Linked DNA regions of Homo sapiens. The protein of the gene in region 1 interacts with the protein of each later gene in a pairwise test. Each region holds a gene or a part of one and is shown on either strand. Other genes may lie near its edges. The genes, in order: MYO7A and VEZT.

Evidence for each region.
Region 2: the proteins of MYO7A (region 1) and VEZT interact in a two-hybrid assay, tested with the Homo sapiens proteins (one study listed by BioGRID).

What each region holds. Positions count from the first base shown.
Region 1 is NC_000011.10:77,208,099-77,216,110, forward strand, and holds the end of MYO7A (unconventional myosin-VIIa), read left to right. Parts: intron 1-331; coding exon 332-419; intron 420-598; coding exon 599-705; intron 706-3,053; coding exon 3,054-3,239; intron 3,240-3,722; coding exon 3,723-3,839; coding exon of another isoform or gene 3,840-4,172; exon of another isoform or gene 4,173-4,488; intron 4,489-4,515; coding exon of another isoform or gene 4,516-4,536; exon of another isoform or gene 4,537-4,562; intron 4,563-4,853; coding exon 4,854-4,937; exon of another isoform or gene 4,938-4,938; intron 4,939-5,761; coding exon 5,762-5,881; intron 5,882-6,508; coding exon 6,509-6,598; 3' UTR 6,599-7,143; downstream 7,144-8,012. UniProt on the Homo sapiens protein: Myosins are actin-based motor molecules with ATPase activity. Unconventional myosins serve in intracellular movements. Their highly divergent tails bind to membranous compartments, which are then moved relative to actin filaments.
Region 2 is NC_000012.12:95,276,114-95,284,125, forward strand, and holds part of VEZT (vezatin), read left to right. Parts: intron 1-6,199; coding exon 6,200-6,531; intron 6,532-8,012. UniProt on the Homo sapiens protein: Plays a pivotal role in the establishment of adherens junctions and their maintenance in adult life.

The DNA.
Region 1 (8,012 bases):
CCCAGAGCTGCAGGAGGAGCTGGACATGGATGCCAGAGAATGTCCAAGCCAGGGGCTGGGCCGCATTCTTGGCCAGTTTCCCTTGAGTCTAAGGCAGCGTTCAGTGTCCCAGGCACTGAATGGAATGACCATCGCTCCCGGCAAGAAGTGGGCTCTTCCGGGGACACTCAGCAGGCACATGGGGCAGGGTGGGGCTGACACACAGAAACCCCTTCCGGCTGGGAGTGGAGTCTTCCCTGAGAAGGAGCAGCTGCCAGACAGGCCTTAGGTGGGAAGGTCAGAAAATGCAGTGTTGCTTAAACTGAGTGTGCTTCGATGGCCCTGACCCCAGGTCCTCAGCGTTCCTGAGAATGACTTCTTCTTTGACTTTGTTCGACACTTGACAGACTGGATAAAGAAAGCTCGGCCCATCAAGGACGGTAATGAGGCCGGGTCCTGGGATCATCTGAGGCCCAGAGCAGGGAAGTGTGGGCTCGGGGCTGTGCCGTGAGGCCCACCTAGGCGGGCCTGAGTGAGGGCCTCCTCTGGGTCTGGGCTCGGGACGTGAGCACTCCTCTGTGCAGGGACCCTCTGGGTGACCGACTGCCCTGTGCTGCAGGAATTGTGCCCTCACTCACCTACCAGGTGTTCTTCATGAAGAAGCTGTGGACCACCACGGTGCCAGGGAAGGATCCCATGGCCGATTCCATCTTCCACTATTACCAGGTGGGCACCTCTGCACTCTAGTTGCCTTCGTGCACAGCTAGCGTTGCTGTACTTTGGCCCTGAAAGCAGAGACCCACTGACCTTGCCAGGTGTGGGGCCCGTACCAGCCTGGCCTCAAAGGGATTCCTGCCAAGACCACTGGAGCCCCAAGGGATGGCCCAACCCCTGATCCTTGTATCTTCTGATTCTTCAGCCCTTAGGGGCTTGACAGTTCCTCCTCTGAGCTTCCGATCCCTACCTGTTCAGGCCCCTCCTTCAGTGCGGGGCTATCCTCTGACTTCGAGATTCTGCTGTTGTAACTGGGTAATTCCAAGGCCTCTGTGCAAACATTTTCTAGCATAGGCACCTGCAGGAAGCCGGGAGGGAAGCTTGCATGTTGAGCCTCTATTATGTGTCTGGCACTCTTCTCTCATTCTGTCCTCCCAACTAACCCCAAGAAGCAGGCATGTTGTCCCCATTTGACAGAGGGACAAAGAGACTCAGGCCGCGTGCTGTGATTAGGATCACACAGCTGATGGAACTGGGGTTTGATTCCAGGTCTTCATGACTGCAGGTTGGTGCTCTTTTCTGGGCTCAGCCTGCTTACCATTCTGTGGGAGAAAAACCATGATGCTGGGAAGGGCAGAGGAGGCAGGGACGGTGGCTGCTGTGGCAGAGAGGACACTGGCCTGGGAGTGAGAAGGACTGCCCTCATCCAAACCTGGGATCTACCTTTCCTCATGCCCCTCCCCACCCACCCCATGCTGCCCACTGAGTGCATGGCCCCTGGACTACCAGTTCCCCCAGAGTCAGCCTTGACATCTGCTCCTCCTGTCCCACGTCCCAAATCACTTACCTGATGACTGTACCTCCTGGATATCTCTAAAGTCCCCCATGTCTCTCCATCACCACCTTCCCAACCTGGGTCAGTCTACCATCATCTCTGATCCAGAATGGAGGCAGTGACCTTCTCCCTGTTCTCCTCATCCATTTTGGTCCTTTCAATCCTTTCTCCACAGGGTGGTCATCCTGCTTTCCAGATTCCCCCAGTGGATTCCCCTTGCTCGTAGGGCATAACCCCCGTCCTGGCCGTGGCCCTGCCTGGTGGTGCCACTAACTGCTCCTGCTGCCTTGCCTTGTACCTGGCTCTCCTTCAGCTCAGCTGGATTGTTTCCGCTTCTCAAGTGTGCCACAGGGCCTTTGTAATGTTGGGATGCTCTTCCCTCAGTTCCTTCCCTCACCTACTGAGCTTTTAGATGTCAGTCAGCCATTTTATCTTAAAGGAAGTCTGCCCTGTCCTCAAGCCTAGATTAGGTCACCTTGTTATATTCTCTTACAGCACTGTGGACAATTCCTTCAAAGGTTGTCATTATATATCTGTTTGGTATGATTTTTAATGTCTGTCCTTGCCCTGAGACTACAAGTTCCATGGAAGTAGGGAGGGTAGGCATTGTTGCTTAAAGGGCCTGGCTCATAGATGTTCAATGCATGCTTGTTGGATTGACAGATGGGTGAGTAGGTAAACTGGTGGCTCAATGAACATAGAGATGGGAGGATGAATGCTGAGTGAATTGATGGGTGGATATTGGTAAGTGAATTGGTGAGTTAGGTAGGTGAGTGGGTGGATGGGTGGGTAGATGGATGGACAGATAGGGAGATGGATGGAGGTAGATGTGTAGGTAGATAGACCCATAACCACATGGATGGGTGGGTAGGATGGATAATGATTGACTCAGATCTCTGACTGACAATGTATCCTCAGGCCAGCCTCAGTTTCTCTACCTTTCAAATTGTGTATAAGATGACCATAAGGCTCTAGGAGTCTGTGGGCAGCGCCAGCCCTTCAGAGGCTTCATCTCTGCTCTGGGCCCATTCCCCAGCCTAAGTTCCTCTGGTTTTGGGTCTGGAAGTTCAAGGGGGTGGGAGGGCCTCTGCTACTGCTAATGAAAGCAGCTGGTCTCAAGAGAACCCAATGCAAGGAGGCCAGACTGAGAGGCTCTTCCAGAGGAGGATGGGCCCAGGAGGTGAGGGGTATGGAACAGTCTCAGGGTTGCCAGCTGGTCACTCTGAGTTTCTTCATCTTGAAATGGGGCTGCTCATCTCACTGGACTGTTATGGGGGGACATGAGGTAACAGACATGGCCATGCACTCCAACTGCCAACTGCTGAGTCTGTGCAGGCAGACTTGCTCTGTCCCTGTCCTGTGCCGTATCCCCTGGGGGAGCAGTGTCAGCTGAGGCTGGAGAGGTGGGTGGGCCCATGTGCGGGGTAAGGTGGTAGACCCCGGCGTTGGGGGTCTTGGTGTGGTGGGAAAGGAGCCCACTTCTGCCAGGTCCCTGCACGCCTGTGACCTGCTCTGTCTCTGACAGGAGTTGCCCAAGTATCTCCGAGGCTACCACAAGTGCACGCGGGAGGAGGTGCTGCAGCTGGGGGCGCTGATCTACAGGGTCAAGTTCGAGGAGGACAAGTCCTACTTCCCCAGCATCCCCAAGCTGCTGCGGGAGCTGGTGCCCCAGGACCTTATCCGGCAGGTCTCACCTGATGACTGGAAGCGGGTGAGCATGGGGTGGGCATCGGGAATGGTGGGGCCCTGAATGGGCCTCGGGGCACCCCAGGGGCCAAGGGGGCAGACACTGGCCAGCAGCCCAGGGAGGTGCATCTTGTGGTTCTTGTACTTGATGAGGCCGCCCACCCTTGTTCCTCCACCTGCCTTATCCTTCAGTCCTCCATGCCAAGGACTCAGTGGCCACTTGGCAGTCATTTATCCTGTCCTGGTTACCATGGTGACCTGTTTGTCCTTGATACCCTTTGGTCTGCCTGCCTGGGGGTGAGAAGGGAGGTCGGGAGTCCATTAGCTGAAATATGGGGAGAGCCCTTCACAGTCCCCAGGTCTGCTGTCCTAGTCCTGGCCCTGAGGGTGCAGACGGGGCTGGAGTGGGCAGGGGTGGTGTGGGGAGGACTCTGAGCTCTGAGCTGGCCTGCCCTGAGCAGGCCTGTCCCCAGGACTGAGCCCAGCCCTGACCGCCCTGTCCCCATAGTCCATCGTCGCCTACTTCAACAAGCACGCAGGGAAGTCCAAGGAGGAGGCCAAGCTGGCCTTCCTGAAGCTCATCTTCAAGTGGCCCACCTTTGGCTCAGCCTTCTTCGAGGTGAAGGTACACCATGGGCTTCTCAGAGCAGAGGAGGAGGGGAACAGGGCATTGATAAAGCACAGAGACTCCTCCCTAGGACTGTGGGAAAGAGCCATGGCCTTGGACACCTGCCCTGGTGAGGGAAGGAGGGCAGCACCCTCAGCCTTGTCCCAGCTTAGCGTCTTAGCTGGGGTAAGTCCTGGGGACAGAGGGACCAGAAGAAGCTCAGCCTGGCAGTGGAGGCAGACATGTAAACAGGCTGGGGTAATGGAGGATGGCCTGTGTTCTGACACTGGGGAGCCCTCGCCCAGGTGGCAGAGCTCGGGAGGCTCTGCCGGGTGTGAGAAGGCCTCTTAGAGGAGGTGATATCTGAGCTTTCCAGGCAGACCCTGGAAAGAGTGCTCCTGGCAGGGGTCCCACATAGACAAAGGCCTGGAGGTGTGAGAACTCAGGTCTGGGAAGGAAATCCAAGTAGTGAGGGCAGGAGGCGAGAGTGGGCTGTGGAGAGCAGCAGCTTGGCAAGCAGGTGAGAGGCTGGGTTTCCTGCAGGGGTGGCCTGCCTTGGAGGGTTTTGAACACAGGTGACGTGGCCAGAAAGCCTCTCAGGCTGCGGGTGGAGGAGGGGTCTGAGGGGCACAACAGAGGCAGGAGTATGGTGAGGAGGCTGGTGTGAGAGGATACGTATGGTCTTATCACACAGCTAGGATGGGAGGCCTTTTGAGGAGCTTGGCTGTGCGAGGAGAACAGGTAGGTAGCTGGAGGCAGGTGCAGGGTCCAGGAGGCTTTTTAAAGATGGGAGGCCCTTGGGCTGAGAGGGAGGACAAAGCAGAGGATGGCCTGGGGGACCCAGGAAGGGATGTGGGGCAGCACTGAGGGCCCAGCGGAGGTGGAAGCCATAGGTCATGGCAGGGCCGTCAGTACCACATAGGCAACAGGAGAGGCTGACTTTATCCCAGCTGGGGCCAGGCTTCATTCCTGTCCCCAAATGCTTTTCTTGCTCTGGGCCCCCATCTGATGCCTTCTCATCTTTTTTTCTAGCAAACTACGGAGCCAAACTTCCCTGAGATCCTCCTAATTGCCATCAACAAGTATGGGGTCAGCCTCATCGATCCCAAAACGAAGGTGAGCAGGGATAAGGCAGCAAGTGGGGGCGGGCTTCTCTGCCTGAACCACAGACACGGTCCCAGAACGAACCCCACAAGCCCTCCTAGCCACCATCTATCTCTAGACTCATCCACCCATCACGTGGCTTCAAAAGCTGTCAGCGTTTGCTAGGACTTTACCCAACGCTTGCTCCACCAAAATTGCTCTCCTGAAGTTACTAACAAACTCCTTCCTATGGAATGTGAACTCCCTTTAGTACTTGGCCTTTCAGTATCACTGGATGCTCTGCCCATGCAGGTCATGGGGCTGGCTGTGCAGGGGTGACCGTGCATCTGTGTTTCTGGGCCAGAGCAGCCCAGCTGCACACCCAGAGGGTCCGACTGGACAGGTGGTGAAGAGGGCTCGTGACCACCATCTTTCCATTGGCTTCATGCATCACGCATTCCTGGCTGTCCTCTGTGTCTTGGTCATTCCTTCCCGGACCCTTTGGTGCCTGCTCCTGTACACCGTGTTTCCCAAGGTTCTGCCCTGTCTTCTTCTTGGCTCCCTCCTCAAACTCTCCCTGGACCATCTCATTCAGGCCACGGTGTCAGTTCCCTCAGGTCTCCCAATTTCCGAGTTCTGGCCCCAAGTACCCAACAGCCTCCTAGACTTCCTGGGTGTCCAAACCAAGGTGTGGAGGGGGAGGCACCTGCTTCCCACCGCAGCTGGATGGCAGAGCTGGCTTTTCCCTCCGGCCATGGGCTCCTCTGAGGGCCTGAGGCCTTCTGTGAGGGCATGTGTGGGCAAGTGAGGCCACAGGGCCCAGGCCGTGCCTCTCTATGCCCTTTCTGCTCCCCCAGGATATCCTCACCACTCATCCCTTCACCAAGATCTCCAACTGGAGCAGCGGCAACACCTACTTCCACATCACCATTGGGAACTTGGTGCGCGGGAGCAAACTGCTCTGCGAGACGTCACTGGTGAGGGCGCATCCTGCTGGGCCTAGTGGGCTCCCTGCCTTGCCTGCAGCGTAGCCAGCCTCCCAGGGCCTGGAACAAACACAGTAGTGTGCGGCTGGGCCTGGGGTCGTGGGCAAGGGTCATGCTGGGGCCAAGGTCAGGTCAGTTTGAGGCTCAGCTTAGGTCTGGGGAAGGGACTTAATCTGGGGCTGAGGAACAGATCCCTCGTTCAACAACTGTTGTCTGAGTGCCTTCAGTATCTGGGGATCGGGCCCACTGTGACAGCCCTTTAGCCCCCCGAGTTCAACAGTGGAACCATTAACAATGAGACCTCCTTGACCAAGCTCAAACTTCCAAGGCATAGCTCAACTGAGAGCCAGTAGGGTCACTCTTGGAGGGAGGGATCCGTGACTTGAGGGACCCACAAGCTAGGGGCTTAATGTGGGGTCATAACAGTGTAGAACCTTAGCCATCTGGCTGGATGAATTCAACCCTTCAATTGTGCAGATGGGAGATAAGCCCTGAGTAGGAGGGATTTGCCTTTGTCCTGGGTTCTGCCCATTGCAGATTCCTGGGAGCTGTGCTATGGTCTGAGTGGCTGGCCCTGTCCCACCGTGTGCTCGCTTATCTTCTCACCCCTGCTTCCAGGGCTACAAGATGGATGACCTCCTGACTTCCTACATTAGCCAGATGCTCACAGCCATGAGCAAACAGCGGGGCTCCAGGAGCGGCAAGTGAACAGTCACGGGGAGGTGCTGGTTCCATGCCTGCTCTCGAGGCAGCAGTGGGTTCAGGCCCATCAGCTACCCCTGCAGCTGGGGAAGACTTATGCCATCCCGGCAGCGAGGCTGGGCTGGCCAGCCACCACTGACTATACCAACTGGGCCTCTGATGTTCTTCCAGTGAGGCATCTCTCTGGGATGCAGAACTTCCCTCCATCCACCCCTCTGGCACCTGGGTTGGTCTAATCCTAGTTTGCTGTGGCCTTCCCGGTTGTGAGAGCCTGTGATCCTTAGATGTGTCTCCTGTTTCAGACCAGCCCCACCATGCAACTTCCTTTGACTTTCTGTGTACCACTGGGATAGAGGAATCAAGAGGACAATCTAGCTCTCCATACTTTGAACAACCAAATGTGCATTGAATACTCTGAAACCGAAGGGACTGGATCTGCAGGTGGGATGAGGGAGACAGACCACTTTTCTATATTGCAGTGTGAATGCTGGGCCCCTGCTCAAGTCTACCCTGATCACCTCAGGGCATAAAGCATGTTTCATTCTCTGGCCCGACAGTGTCTTTGCTCAGGGAGGGGAAGTGGAAGGGAAGGGCATGTGGGGTCAGGACAGGGCCTTGCAGGGGAGCAGCCTATATAACGACTTCTTTGGTCTTAACCTGCTGGGGCCAAGCTGGTCTGGGTTTGGGGGTTGGGGAGCTTGAGCTCAAGATGTGCCTTAAGTGGCTTAAAGGGAAGAGCTGAGATTGGGGTGGGTTGGGAGGAAGTGCTGGACATCAGGCTGGGAGGTGAGGACCAAGTGTGCATGAGCAGCTGGGGGTCTAGAGGAGGAATCAGCTTCTGGGCTGTAACTAGGGCCAGTGGAGCCACAGCGGCCCTTGCACCTGCCAGAAACACCTTGGCTCATCAAGACATGTCCAAGAACCCCAAGAACAATGCTGCCTTGGGTTAAATCTTCATGTCCAGTGGGTGCCAGTAAAATGTTACTTTGTGACCAGCATGGGACAACCAGGTTTGGCCATGACTGGAGTAGGGCTGCGGGTGGGGGTTTCAGACAGGGAAGGTGTGACTTAGAGGTGGGGCATCCTCAGACTGTGGCTGGGATGAGCACCTAGAGAAGTGATTGATTGATTGATTGATAGTGGAGAATCCCCTTGTGGGGAGGGTTTGTGATCTGCCCTCGAGGTCCCATACTTCAGCAGAGCCAGGTCCTGCTTCTTTTCATACACTACAGTGTCTGGGTCATCAGCATCTGTGTGTCTGTCTACCCCACAAGGAGTGCTATTCCTGATCTCCTTAGCTGTTTGTTAGTGTAGGACTGGCTGGTGTGTGTAAATGGAGGCCTCAAACCAGAGAGCCCTGCTTTCTGGGATGGTAACGTGGCTGTTGGAGGACACAGCTCCACAGGTAGCCCAGGAGAAA
Region 2 (8,012 bases), on another chromosome or scaffold:
CTTTATTCTAGCAATTTTAATTTGCCCTTACAGATTTATCTCAGAAAGTAACCAAAGATATACCCAAAGTATGTTCATGACATTAGTGTAGCAGCCAACATTGGAAACAAATTTTTTTTGTTTTTCTTTTTCTTTTAATTTTTTTCTTTTTTTTTTTTTTTTTTTTTTTTGAGACAGAGTCTCACTCTGTTGCCCAGGCTGGAGTACAGTGTGGCTCAATCACAGCTCACTGCAGCCTCAACCTCCCCAGGCCTCAGGTGATCCTCCTACCTCAGCCTCCCGAGTAGCTGGGACTACAGTTACATGCCTCCACACCCGGCTAATTTTTGTATTTTTTGTAGAGACAGGGTTTCACCGTGTTGCCCAGGCTGGTCTAAAACTCCTGAGCTCAAACTATTTGCCCACATCAGCCTCCCAAAGTGTTGGGATAACAGGCATGAGCCACCATGCCCAGCCTCCAGTAGTATTTTTAAGACATTGATCCAAATGTCTTAAGTTCCTACTAAGTATTTAGTAAGCTCTCTTTAGATGTTTCTTTGTTTTTAGTTTTTAAAACTTCCCTTGATACCGTGAAAATTAGTGCAAGTATTGTTGTTAGCATTTATCAAGATCCATTTTGTTTTGAGACTGTATTGACTTCCATATCTTTTACATTTTCTAAATCAACATAAATGTTCTAATAATCTTGTTTGTTTTCTTTCTTTCCTATTACGTAAAATTTGCTTTGGCTTATTCCTACTCCCCTTCTAACCCATCTCAATAAATGGCACCACAAAAAACCTGGACACCATCTTTCTTGTCCCTCTTTTTGCCCACTCACATCCAGTCTGTTAGCAGATTCTTATGTCACTTCTACCTTGAAAATGTATTTTAAACCCATCCACTTTTTTCTATATCCACCCCCGCCCCCGCACCATCCTAGTCCCAGCCACCATGCTAGTCCCAGCCACCATCATTTCATACTTAGGCTGCTGCAGTACTTTCCTCAGTTATCTAAAGTTATTTGTTTCAGAATGCAACTTGACATGTAAAGAACCTTTTTAATGATTTATCCTTTGAATTTGTAATTCCCCTTCTACAAACTGCAGGAAATTATTTAAAACATAGTTAAACTTTATATACCAAGCTGCTTATTCACTTTGTGTTTATAATAGTGCACAATGGAACACTGCCTGAAAGTTCAAAAATAGAGGAATGGCTGTGTGAGTCATGCCAGAGCCACATGGTGAACCATTGTGTAGCAGCTACAGCTTGCCCGTGAAAATTCTGTAAAAACTTGGAGAAACATCTGTTGCCAGTGAAACAATCAGGATACATAAGTGTATATGCAATATGTCCACAACCCTGTTTAAAAAAAAAAATGAGGAGAAAATACCAAGATATATATAGCTACTCTTTGGGGTGGTGGGACTATAGATACTTTCACACCCTTTCGAATTTAATATCCTAACCTTGCTTTATTCTTTAAGGAAAATAAAGATTTTTTTCAAAGTACAATTTAAGAGATTCTTAATGTGGAAAATGGAGCAGACCTGTGTTTATATTTTAGCCCTGACTGACTAGCCATTTGCCTTTGAATAAGTTATTCTTTGAACTTATGTCACCTGTGAAAAGGAGTTACCATCCCTGCCTTATAAGGTATTAGATTAAATGAGAAGACATATTAAATACCTAGAACAGGGCTTGACATATAATGGGTACCCCCAAATGGTAATAGCTGTTATTCTTTAAGAAGGACTTGGAGAAAGAATTATAGTATTTCATTTCCTTTTAAATTACTTTTTGTTAACTCATCAAGATGCCTTGGAGATTTATTTCTTTATGCTGTTGATGTACTGTTTTTAAAAGCTTATTAAATCCTGAATTGTACTCTAGCTTAAGTATAGGCAGCAAAGAGAAGTTGTGGACCCTGTGGAGTCAGATTTTCCAGGTTTCACTCTAGCTCCGTTATTTGACTACTGTGTGGTCCTGAGCAAATCATTGTTTCTGTGTTTATTAAAATGGGATAATTGCAATGCTTGCCTCCAAAGGATTAGATGTTTGTCAGTTCAGTGCCTGGTGTAGAGTAAGCAATTAATGAATGTTAGCTGATTTTTAAAATTCTATCTGATATGGCCTGCTCTGAAATGTGAGACTTGTTCTCTGTTGCTGTATCCCCATCCTACCTTCCAACAATGGTGATTATAGCTAGATTCCTTTTGCTCACTCACAGTGTTTTACAAATCAAACTATAATAGTATTTTTATATTTCTTTTATTTTTACATATAACTAACCTGTAACCAAACTCAATGATTGTGTTACAGTTACCACATTTATCAGGCTCTGAAAGGAGCCTTATCTTGAGGAGCTCTATAGACTTTGCAAACTGTTGAAAACCCCTGTAATGTTCAAAGACTGTGTATTACCCCCTTCTGTAGTTACCACTGTATCGTTATTCAGATAAGAAATTTAAAAATAGATTTTGTAAGTTAAATTTTTAAAAGTGTGTTGCCCCCTCTAAAGAAAATACATTTTGGATTTATTTTTTATTGTTCCCGTATCTTCCCTCAGGAAAGTTTAGTGATAGTAAGTATTGCACCTTTAGAAAGAAAAGCAACCTCCAAATTGTAGCCTGAGGAGACATAAATAAAATACAGGTTGAATATTTCTTATCCAGGCGTGAGTCTTATCCAGGCCTGGCACCGTGGCTCACGCCTGTAATCCCAGCACTCTGGGAGGCCAAGGCGGGCGGATCAACTGAGGTTGGGAGTTTGCAACCAGCCTGACCAACATGGAGATACCCCGTCTCTACTAAAAATACAAAAAATTAGCCAGGTGTGGTGGTGCATGCCTGTAATCCCAGCTACTCGGGAGGCTGAGGCAGGAGAATCGCTTGAACCCAGGAGGCGGAAGTTGTGGTGAGCCAAGATCGTGCCATTGCACTCCAGCCTGGGCAACAAGAGCGAAACTCCGTCTCAACATAAATAAATAAATTAATTGATTAATTAATTTCTTATCCAAAATGCTTGAGACTAGAAGTGTTTTGGATTTTGGATTTTTTCAGATTTTGGAATATTTGCATTACACATTGAGGTTGAGCATCCCTAATCCAAAAATTTGAAATTTGAAATGTTCCAGTGAGCATTTCCTTTGACTGCCATGTTGGTGCTCAAAAAGTTTCAAATTTTGGAGCATTTGGGATTTCATTTCAAAGTTTTGGATTAGGGATACTCAATCAGTCCCTAGAACACAGTCCTTATCCCTCTCTTTTCCTTTAAGTTTTTAACTAGTTTTTTAAATTTATGAAGTCATCTGTTTCCTGCTCTAGAAAAAATAAATGCACACATTGTGAAATGCTTTAAATCAAAATTTTCTGTTTACCTATCAGCTATGGTTATCTCCTTATCCAGAGGAGCTTTCCTTATCCAAAGAACAAACAGGAAAAAAGAAATACATATTTCTGAGTTCTGGTTTAAGTGGGTAATGTGACAGTGATTGGATGACAAATTAGTCTTTAGAGACAAGGTCTTGCTCAGTCACACAGCTGGTGTGCAGTGGTGCAATCGTGGCTCACTGTAACCCTGAACTCCTGGGCTCAAGCGATCCTCCCACCCTAGCCTCCCAAGTAGCTGGAACAACAGTTATGTGCCACCATGCCTGACTAATTTTTAAGAAAATATTTTGTAGAGGCAGGGGTCTCACTGTGTTTCCCAGGCTGGTCTCCCAACTACTGGCCTCAAGTGAGCCTCCCAAAGTGCTGGGATTACAGGTGGGAGCCACTGCGCCTGGCCTTTAGTCTTTTCAAAAGCCGCAGTAAACTGTACCAACTTGATTCTTGCAGTTATCTTGACCCAACATGCTGGAATCATCCTTGTTAACTCTTTTTCTCTCAATACCAATCAGTCAAGAGATTGTGTTAGTTCTGCTTTCACAATGTATCCAGAGTCCATCTGCTGCTCACCTTCCACCACTAACCACCGTGGTCTCATTAATGCTTACCTGGAATATTGCAGTAACTTCCTTACTGGTTTCTCCACTTCTACTCTCATTTTCCTATAATCTCTCAACTCAGCAGACAGTATGGGCCTGTTAACGCATAAATCAGATTATGTCATGCTTCTGCTCAGAACCCTTCAGTGGCTCCCCATTGCTTACCTGGCCCCAGCCGTACTGAGCTTCTTGCTGTTCCATAGATCTACCCTGTGTGCTCCCACAACAGTACTTTGCATTTGACTTCCTGCTCCCTAGAACTCTCTTCCTTGATGATTATCTCATGGCTCACTTCCTTCAGGTGACACTTTTAGAGACCTCCCCAGCCAGCCCCTTCTCCTCTCTCCTTCGCGCTTTCTGTCTCTCTCCCCCCCTTTCATATGTGTACACACACATACACACACACACACACACACACTATTCCCCCCCTTTCATATGTGTACACACACACACACACACACACACACACACTATTCCTCTTCTTTGCTGTGTTTTTCCCATCAACCAAGAAACACTATCTTTCTTTTTCTTCCTCGACAATCATTACTGCAAAAGGGAAATAGTATCTTTTACTTGTAAATTATTATCTGTGCCCCTCTACTTGAATATAAGCTCCATCAGAGTGGGGACTCTTCATTTTTGCTCACTGCTGTTTATCTGCACCTAGAACAGTGCCTGGCACATCATGGGTGCTCAAGAAATCATTTCTGAATGAACGAACAAAAGAATAAAAATCATTGTAATCATAAAATTTAACAGTTGAATAAGAAGGCTTGCAAGTAAACTTGCAAGTCAAGAATCCCTAGATATCACATCTGTAGCAACTAGGAAATTAGGCCTTGGTCACTTTAAAAAAAAAATAAGTTAATGGTAAAATAGATATACATGAAATAATCTTAATTCATTATTGGCATAATTTTAAAATTCATTTACTAAAACCATCTAAATACTGTCTATTTTCATGGTTGTGAATAATTGGAATCTAAATTACCCAAAGTGGTTTCATCCTCTTTTTATTCCCTGCTACCTCTTGTTTCATACTACATTGTTTCCTCATGCATTTGTTTCGGAGATATTGTCCTCATCTTGAATAGGACTATATCTGGAGAAATATTTTGCTGCCAGGATTCAGGATGTATCTCAGGAACGGGCCTATGAACATATTCAGACTGCATTTTAAAAAAAAGAAGAAGAATGGGATTTATCCTGGCAACATACTGAGACCCCATCTCTAAAACTTAAATATTAGCTGAGTATGGTGGTACATGCCTGTGTTTCCCGCTACTCAGGAGGCTGAAGTAGGAGGATCACTTGAGCCCAGGAGTTTGAGGTTGCAGTAAGCTATGATAGTGCCATTGCACTCTAGCCTGGGCAACAGAGCAAGACTCTATCACAAAAATTAATTAATTAATTAATTAAAATAATGGGTTTTGCAATTTCTCATGTCAGACATTCCTGGAGTATTGATTTTTTTTTTTTTTGGATGGAGTCTTGCTGTGTCACCCAGGCTGGAGTGCAGTGGCGCCATCTCAGCTCACTGTAACGTCTGCCTCCCAAGTTCAAATGATTTTCCTGCCTCGGCCTCCGAAGTAGCTGAGACTACAAGCACATACCACCATGTCTGGCTAAATTTTGTATTTTTAGTAGAGACGAGGTTTCACCATGTTGGCCAGGCTGGTCTCAAACTCCTGACCTCAAGTGATCCATCCGCCTTCACCTCCCAAAGTGAGCCACTGCGCCTAGCCCTGGACTGATTTTTATGTTAATTTCTTAGCTAATTCCTAGGGCAAGGTAATAGTCTTATTTTGAAACCCAAGCTTTTGATCCATGTGACTCATTTCTTTGGAGAGAAAAAAATATATATATATATGTATATATATCCACTAGTCCTACTATCTTCTTTTCTCCTATGTGAAAATTTTTTTTAAATAATGAGTGAAGATTCACTTTTACTAAATTATCTCATTCCATCAACACTTCCCATCTAGGGCAGAACTGTAGTAAATTATATATTGATGTTACCTGCTGTATTGGAATCAGAGGTTCCCACACACATAATTTGAAATCATATTCTTGGCTAATCTTAAGGTAGTTTAAGTTCGGCTATATTTATTATTTAGGATAAAGTGCAAAATTTAAACCAGAAGTTAAGATAAACAAATTTATAGTTTGTTTTGAACACTGACCAATATTTTTATTGATCTAGTTCTTTTTTCTTTTTTCTTTAAGGTTTTGTTCCAACTCTGGGTGGCACAGAGTTCAGAGTTCTTCAGACGGTTAGCCCTATTACTTTCTACAGCCAATTCACCTCCTGGGCCCTTACTTACTCCAGCACTTCTGCCTCATCGTATCTTATCTGATGTGACTCAAGGTCTACCTCATGCTCATTCTGCCTGTTTGGAAGAGCTTAAGCGCAGCTATGAGTTCTATCGGTACTTTGAAACTCAGCACCAGTCAGTACCGCAGTGTTTATCCAAAACTCAACAGAAGTCAAGAGAACTGAATAATGTTCACACAGCAGTGCGTAGCTTGCAGCTCCATCTGAAAGCATTACTGAATGAGTAAGTTTAGAAATTATACCAAGAAAGGTCTCGGTAATTAGCAAGCTTCATTCGTGTACCATTGTGGTTGTTGGCTTGTGTCCTACCTAGAAAAAAGAAACAAAACTGAGGCATGAGCATGAAGGGTGATTTATAGCTATAAATATAGCAAAAAAAAAAAATAATTTATAAGTACTATAACTTGAGGGAGTTATTATTTATAGTTTTTACTTTTCCTTAGTTCAACAGAAAACTTGGAAAAGTAGGCTAAAAGCAGGTGTTGTTCATTCTCTTTGAGAGCTGAAATGGAGATGGTTATAAAGAATGAGTTTCTTTTAACTGTCTTAAGGTAGTGCTCTTAAACTGGAACCTGCAGTCCAATAGAAATATCTACCAGTACTGGAACAGTATATATGTTATATATAGTGGAAGAGTAACATATTGCTATTTTTCTAAATAAATTACAGCAGATCTGAAAATTTTTTTGTATCACAGGACAAGCTTTGTGGTCCCAGTTGAAGAGCAAAATGTAGAGTCTAGAGTTTATATTTGTTCATTTCCTACCTTGCATGAAATTGTTGGTATACTACCTTAATTCCTAAATTTTTATGTCCCACTTTGGTATACCTTTATCAGCTGAAAATACTATTTTCACATATTTGTACATGGAAGTTTTCAAGTTTAAAAATTGAATCAAGGCATTTAATTGAATACAGTCATTTCCAGTGAAATTTTTCTCTAACAGTTAAATACTCATCGTGTAGGACTGGATCAAATGAATGGTTGGGTTCAAATTGTGTTGGTAATCAGGAAGGTCCTAGGAATTTAAAGAGCTGACAAGATTGTAGTTGATGTACTTGACCCTGGGATACAAGGCAAGAAGTGGAATGGGGAAGGCAGTATTTGATTATGTAAATAAGAATGGGTCAAAAGGACTTGATACATCAGCAAAATCAAAAGGCTAAATCAGCAAATCAAAATCACTGGAATTAGGGAGGATAAGAGATACAAGGATAGGAACTTAAAGTCAGAAAGATATTTTTAGAAGCTAAGTTTTTACCCATCAGTTCAAGGCCTGAGTTGGGCTTGATATAAGGCTTGATATAAGGCTGATATAAAGATTATGGCATAGGAAAAATGAAGACACTATGAACTCAGGGTATTCCAGTGGTCTATATCTGCTGTTCTAAGAAAGCAGGTAAATGCTAACGAGGCTCTTAGCCCTGCCTTCTACAGGGAACTGGGCGATAAGGCCATCTCCACTTGAGTGGGTGGCAAAGGTTGGATTGTCCTCAAAGGAAAATAAGATTTCAGTGGACAGGTTGTAGGCAAAGCCAGAGCCTCCGAAGAAGTAAGTTTTGGCAATAGAATCAGAAATATACGGCGCATATTAGAATGCATTTGAGTGAGGGAAGATGGCTCAGGGAAGAAAGAGTGCTACACAAGGTAGACATGAACACAAAAAAGAGGAGCTTTGTACCATGAGCAGGAATTGTGGATTA